2 linked regions of the Homo sapiens genome follow. Changing the gene in region 1 together with any one later gene gives a genetic interaction. Each region holds a gene or a part of one and is shown on either strand. Other genes may lie near its edges. The genes, in order: DBF4 and ATR.

Region 1 (3,826 bases):
AAATTTCAGTTTGAGGTTAGTGAAGACAATAGTGTAGTTTTTCTCCTGTTCTAATTTATGACCTTCCTGAATCCTGTTAATTTGAGGGTTCCATTTAGTTTAAGAATCTCAGAATATAGGAGAGAGCTTCTGTTATTTTTGGAAATGAGGTGATAATGGAAGTACCTCATCTGAGGCTTAAAACTTTAAAGTGGATACATAGTTTTTTGTTTGGAGGGTTTTGTTTTGCCACAGTAGTTTTATTAAAAAAAAAAAAGAATCCTGAATTTGCAAGTATCTAATATGTTTTCTATGTTCTCAAGCAGGAAGACTCAAAAAGCCTTTTGTAAAGGTGGAAGATATGAGCCAGTAAGTATTTAAGTCCAATCTGTATGATTTAAGTGCAATACTAAAGAGGAAAATCACCTAACTAATTAGGCTAGCTCGATTAGTACTGTTAGGTTCCTTTGTGTTTGATTTATATTATACTAATGTGCATGCGGCACAAGTTAACGAAAGTAGCATTAATTCATTTGTGCTCAAGGACTGAATTTAGTTTCAGTATGTTGTAGATATTCCTGAAATAGCTGGTTTAGAAAAATCATGACACCGTTTTTTTAGTATTTAAATTATTCTCTGGCTAAATGCAGTACCAAATGATTTAGAACTACTGAAAGATTACGCCTTCATTTGCGAAAAAGAAATTATTAGATGCTATTTAGAAACAGAAAATCTAAGTATAACATCTAACATGGTTGATTTCCAAAATTCTGAAGTATTGTAGGATAGTCTTGTTGTTGTTGTTGTTTGTTTTGATTTTTTGAGATGGAGTCTTGCTCTGTCACCCAGGCTAGAGTGCAGTGGCACGATCTCGGCTCACTGCAACGTCCACCCCACCCCCGGTTCAAGCAATTCTCCTGCCTCAGCCTCCCAAGTAGCTGGGATTATGGGTCTACGCCACCATGCCCAGCTGATGTTTGTATTTTTAGTAGAGATGGGGTTTCACCATGTTGGCCAGGCTAGTCTCTAACTCTTGACCTCAAGTGATCCGCCTGCCTCAGCCTCCCAAAGTGCGGGGATTACAGGCGTGAGCCACTGTGCCCAGCCATGTGGGATAATCTTAATGAAGACCACAGATATAAATAGGCCTGCCATGAGAGAATTAGATTACTTTCTTTTTTCTTTCCACTTATTCATTTAGACATCTGTGGTTAATTCTCTTGGGTACTCACACTGAGGCGACAAAAGTGTATTGAAAACTGCTTTTTATGAAATGTGTTGCTGTGAAGAAAAAAGTGCAATTCAAAAGGAGGCCTAGAAAAGACACTAGTATACGAAAGGACATCCCATGTTCATGAATTGGAAGATATAATATTGTTAAGATGTTAATACCACCCAAAGTGATCTACAGATTCACTGCAATCCCTATCAAAATCCCAATGATGTTTTTTGCAGAAATAGTAAAAACGTATCCTAGAATTCATACGGAATTGTAACAGATGCAGGAAACCCAAGACAATCATTAAAAATAACAACAAAGGCCAGGCGCGGTGGCTCACTCCTGTAATCCTAGCACTTTGGGAGGCCGAGGCAGGCAGATCACGAGTTCAGGAGATGGAGACCATCCTGGCTAATACGGTGAAACCCTGTCTCTACTAAAAATATAAAAAATTAGCCGGGCCTGGTGGCGGGCACCTGTAGTCCCAGCTACTCAGGAGGCTGAGGCAGGAGAATGGCGTGAACCCGGGAGGCAGAGCTTGCAGTGAGCCGAGATCACGCCACTACACTTCAGCCTGGGGGACAGAGCAAGACTCCGTCTCAAAAAAAAAAAAAAAAAAGAACAACAAAGTAAGAGGTCTCACACTTTCTGGTTTTAAAACTTACTGTAATGCTACAGAAATCAGAACAATTTGGCATTGGAATAAAGACATATAAACGAATGGAATAGAATAGAGAGCCTAGAAATAAACCATCACACATATGGCCAAATGATTTTCAACAAGGGTATGAAGATAATTTAATGGAGAAAGGACAGTCTTTTTTAACAGTGTTGAGAAAACTAGATATACACATGCAAAAGAATGGCATTAGACTCCTACCTCACATCATGTTCAAAAATTAACTCAAAATGGACCAAAGACCTAAAATGGTAAAACTCTTGGAGAGAACACAGGGGAAAAGCTTCATGACATTGGATTTGCAGTGCTTTCCTGGACGTGACACCAAAAACACAGATTACAAAAGATAAAATAATTAAATTGGACCATATCAAAAATATAAATTTCTGTGCCTAAAGGGATATAACAGTAAAAAGGCAACCGAAAGGATGGAAGAAGATACTGCAAGTCATGTATCTATTTCTTTTTTTCAGCTTTCTCAGGTTGAACAAGTCATATATCTAATAAATGTTAATATCCAGAATATATTAAGAATTACAAGTCAACAACAAAACAACCCAATTTTAAAAAGGGGCAAAGCGCTGAATAGACATTTTTCCAGAGGTGATACACAAATAGCCAATAAGCATATGAAAAGATGCTCAACATTACTAATCATGAGGGAATTGCAAATCTAAACCACAGTGAGATACCACTTTACATTATTTAGGATGGCTACTATTAAGCAGCCAAAAAGTGAAAGTAATCCAAGTCCATCAGCAAATTAATGGATAAACAGTATGCAGGATGTGTGTGTACACACACTCAATGGAATATTACTCAGCCTTTAAAAGGAATGAAATTCTGACACGTGCAACATGGATAAACCTTTAAGACGTTATGCTAAGTGAAATAAGACAAAAAATACTGCATGATTCCACTCCTGAAGCATCTACGTTAGTCAAACTGATAACAAGAAGTAGAATGGTGGTTGTCAGGGGATATGGAGAAAGGATATTTGGGAAGTTACTGTTTGATGGGTATAGAGTTTCAGTTTTTGCAAGATGAAAATACGTCATCTTACAAAAGATGGACGGTAGCAGTGATGGTACCACAGCATTGTGAATACTTAATGCAACTGAATTGTACACTTAAAATGGTTAAGGTAATAAATTTTATGTGTATTTTACCACAATTTAAAAAATGTTTAAATGTTAAAAATTGTTAGGCCTGAAATTGATTTTTTGAAGGAAAGCCTAAATAATTTGTTATTTCAGATTCCAGCTTAATTATATGATTTTGAAATACAAAACTTTAAACCTTTTTTCTTTAATCATAAAGAATCTCATGTATTTGTCTTTTTATTCTTCTAGACTTTATAGGCCATTTTATCTTCAGCTGACCAATATGCCTTTTATAAATTATTCTATTCAGAAGCCCTGCAGTCCATTTGATGTAGACAAGCCATCTAGTATGCAAAAGCAAACTCAGGTTAAACTAAGGTTGGTTTGAATCTTTACTTTTAGAAGGAATATTCAGAATTTCATCTCAATTTTTCTTTGTAAAGATTTGAAATAGTTTCATTTATGCCATAATGGTTATTTGTGTTTGTAATTACTATTCTGATTACTTTTATAAGTCTGAATCTGTTTAGATGGAGGTGGGGAGGGCCTTAAAATATTTGTGAATAATGAAAATGTGTAGTTTATCTTGAATGATCTGAAATATTCTCCAGAATATTCATTAAATCTTTAGTTTGCTTCTCAATATAGTATAAAGAAATATGATTAAAAGTACTTGCTGATACAAGTCTCTGCAAATTATGCAGATTGTGTGTGATAGTTTAGGACAATAAATTTTTAAAGTTATTCCTTAGGTTCAGCAGTTAATTCTTTACCATGTATGTCTGTCATCAGAATCCAAACAGATGGCGATAAGTATGGTGGAACCTCAATTCAACTCCAGTTGAA
Region 2 (3,826 bases), on another chromosome or scaffold:
GCATATCAAGTTCATTTGTAGAGATGAGGACTACAGCCCATATCAAGCTATACCTTCTACTAACCTTTTCATTGACAACTTCTCCAGTTTCATTCAGTGGCGCTTTGGAATGCCCTTTCACTGGTTTACTCCATTCCACAAGAGGATCATGTAGAAAAGTCTTTAAGACACTAAAATTGAAACAAATATTATGGTATGATGTTATCTTTGCAAGAAGAAATCTTGCTGACATCAATATTTAAGTGAAGGATGAGAAGCTAATGGTAATACTCTTATAATACACATTACTACGTCTTCATTAAGTTATGTGAAATTTCTGTTTTGGTGTGAGGGGAGGGTAAGAGAAGGGAAGGCAGGAAAAAAGGCAAGATAGAGGGGAGTCAGAGGTGTTTTGGAGAATAGAGTAAGATGGGTTCTATGTGCCATCTCTAAGTGTATACTGTGAACTGGTAAATGACTATATTTTGAATGAAGGAATTTTATCCCTTACCATGTCTTCAATAACGATATAACATCTATAGCTACCATATAGACCTAGCCCAGACCTTTTTTCTGCACCCTAAACATCAAATCCAATTACCTATGGGAAATACCCAGTTGGATATGTTCCAAACACCTCAAACTCAGTATCTCCAAAATAAAATTAATTACCTTTTCCCAACTATTTCTCCTGTATTCCCCAAATCATCATCCACCCATTTGCCCTAGACAAAAATCTAGGAATCATCCTCACCCCGTCTTCCTCTAACATGCAATTACAACTCCTAAATCTCTTTGGAATCTCTTCAGTTATCTCCGTCTCTACGGCCGTGACACTATCCAGTACACCATCATCCTTTCCTGGGTTACTGCAATAAACCTCTAACTAGTTTTCTGGCTGTTGGCCCAAACTAGGACCCTATTTTTTCTACAGTACAAATCAGATTATCTCTTTCCACCCCTTGCCCCCTTTTTATTCCTTCTTAAAATCCTCAATGACTTCTGGTTGCTCTGCAGGCAAAGTTATAATGTAGTAACAGGCCCCATGTGAGACCTTCATAATCTAGCCCCTGCTTACCTGTCCTGCGTCATCTCTTAGCACCACCTCCTGGAAGTATACCCTCTGGAATACATACTGTATTTCTCAGGCAGGCCATGACTTCACTTGCCTTGATATTTTTATCACTCAGAACACTCTCTTCTCCCTTGCATGGTCAACTTTATTAACTTTTAAGGTCTCAACTACTTCCTCCAGAAATTATTTCTTGACTGACCCAGACTAACACAGGGGCTCTTGGTAACTGTTCCACATGATGATATACTTCCTATTTCAGAGAATTTGCTTTTGCATATGTCCAACTAACCAGTATTCTACCATAATGTCTGATAGACAGCTTTTTTTTTTTTTTTTTTTTTTTGAGACGGAGTCTCGCTGTCGCCCAGGCTGGAGTGCAGTGGCGCAATCTCGGCTCACTGCAGGCTCCGCCCCCTGGGGTTCACGCCATTCTCCTGCCTCAGCCTCCCGAGTAGCTGGGACTACAGGCGCCCGCCACCTCGCCCGGCTAATTTTTTGTATTTTTAGTAGAGACAGGGTTTCACCGTGTTAGCCAGGATGGTCTTGATCTCCTGACCTCGTGATCCGCCCGCCTCGGCCTCCCAAAGTGCTGGGATTACAGGCGTGAGCCACCGCGCCCGGCCCGATAGACAGCTTTTAAATAATGAAGGTGAATAAATAAGCTTTAAAAGTCCTTTCAAACAATCTGTTTCCCACAGCTAACATCATACTTAAAAGTCAAAGACTGACTGCTCTACCCCTAAGATCAGGAACAAGACAAGGATGTCCACTTTTAGCATGTCTATTCGACACTGATTTAGTTAGGGCAAGTAGGCAAGAAAAAGAAATAAAAGGCATTGATATTAAAAAGGAAGAAGAAAAACTGTATCTGCAGGTGACATGTTATTGTGGAGAGAAAATCTTAAGGAAGGCACAAAAATAATTATTAGAACTAATACATGAATTCAGCAGATTGTAAGATACAATATCAATATATAAATATCAATTATATATCTATGCACTAGCAATGAACAATCCAAAAATGAAATTAAGAAAAATTCCATTTAGAATAAAATCAAAAGGAATAAAATACTTAGGAATACAATTTTTAAAAGTTAAATATAAAACTTGACCCTAAAAACCACAAAACATTGATGAAAAAAATAAAATTCAAATAAATGGAAAAACATTCTATGTTCATCGATCAGAAGACTTAACATGGTTAAGACAGCAATACTCCCAAATTGTTAAGACAGCAATACTCCCTAATTGATTTACAAATTCAATGTCCTTCCTATCAAAATCCAAGCTGATTTTAAAATTAATATGGAAATACAAGGGACCCATAATAGCTAAATGATCTTGGGGGAAAAAAAGCAAAGTTGGAACACTCACACTTTATGATTTCAAAATTTACTACAAAGGTACAACAATCAAAACACTGTGTTGTTAGCATAAGGTTAGGCATATAGATCAACAGAATATTGCTGAAAATCAATTGACCATTTCAACAAAAAAGCCAAGATAATTAAACGAGGGGCAAAATATTCTTTTCAAAAAATGGTGCTGTGACTAATGGATATGCACATGCAAAAAAATGAATATGGACCCCTACCTTACACCATATCTACAAAATAACTGAAGACAGATAAAAGATTTAAATAGCAGAGCTAAAAGTCAAAAATGCTTAGAAGAACACATAGGTGTAAATCTTCATGACTTTGGATTAGGGAATAGTTTCTTAGATATGACAACAGAAACACCAAAAATAACCAGAAGAAAAAAACAAATTAGACTGCATCAAAATTTAAAACTTTTATGTTTCAAAGGCCATCATCAAAGAAAGTGAAGAGACAACCCACAGATGGAAGAAAATATTTGAAAATCATATCTTAAAAGGTCTTGTATCCAAAATGTGTAAAGAACTCTTGCAACTTGGCTGGGCGGGGTGGCTCATGCCTGTAATCCCAGCACTTTGGGAGGCTGAGGAAGGTGGATGGCTTGAGCTTACGAGTTCAAGACCAGTCTGGGCAACATGGCAAAACCCCTTCTCTGCTGGGGAGGCTGAGGCAGGGAAATCACTTGAACCCACGAAGCGGAGGTTGCAGTGAGTGGAGATCACGTTACTGCACTCCAGCCTGGGCGACTCTGTCTCAAACAAAGAAACAAACTCTTGCAACTCAAGAATAGGCCAGGCATGGTGGCTCATGCCTATAATCCCAGCACTTTGGGAGGCCAAGGTGGGAGGATCACTTGAGGTCAGGAGTTCAAGACCAGCCTGGCCAACGTGGTAAAACCCAATCTCTACTAAAAATGCAAGAATCAGCCAGACATAGTGGCTCATGCACACATGCTGTCCCAGCTACTTAGGAAGCTGAGGCACGAGAATCGTTTGAACCCAGGAGGCAGATGTTGCAGTGAGCCAAGATCACGCCACTGCACTCCAGACTGGGTGACAGAGCGAAACCCTGTCTCAAAGGAAAAAAAAAAAGAATAAAAAAACCCAATTTAAAAGTGGGCAAAGGATTTCAATAGACATTTGTCCAAAGATGATCTACAAATGGCCAACAAAGACATGAAAAGATGCTCACCATCACTGGTCATTAGGGAAGTGCAAATTAAAACCACAATGAGATACAACTTCACATCCCTAGAATGGCTAAAATAAAAAAGGCAGACAATAACCAGGATAGATAAAGATGTTATCTAAAGATAGAAAAGATGCAGAGAAGTTGAAACCCACATACATTACTAGTGGGATTATAAAGTGTTACAACTGCTTTGGAAAATGAT

Evidence for each region.
Region 2: changes in DBF4 (region 1) and ATR are lethal when combined (synthetic lethality), as found in Homo sapiens cells (one large-scale study listed by BioGRID).

Annotation. Positions count from the first base shown.
Region 1 is NC_000007.14:87,896,992-87,900,817, forward strand, and holds part of DBF4 (protein DBF4 homolog A), read left to right. Parts: intron 1-302; coding exon 303-348; intron 349-3,229; coding exon 3,230-3,358; intron 3,359-3,772; coding exon 3,773-3,826. UniProt on the Homo sapiens protein: Regulatory subunit for CDC7 which activates its kinase activity thereby playing a central role in DNA replication and cell proliferation. Required for progression of S phase.
Region 2 is NC_000003.12:142,453,064-142,456,889, forward strand, and holds part of ATR (serine/threonine-protein kinase ATR), read right to left. Parts: intron 171-3,826; coding exon 65-170; coding exon of another isoform or gene 1-64. UniProt on the Homo sapiens protein: Serine/threonine protein kinase which activates checkpoint signaling upon genotoxic stresses such as ionizing radiation (IR), ultraviolet light (UV), or DNA replication stalling, thereby acting as a DNA damage sensor.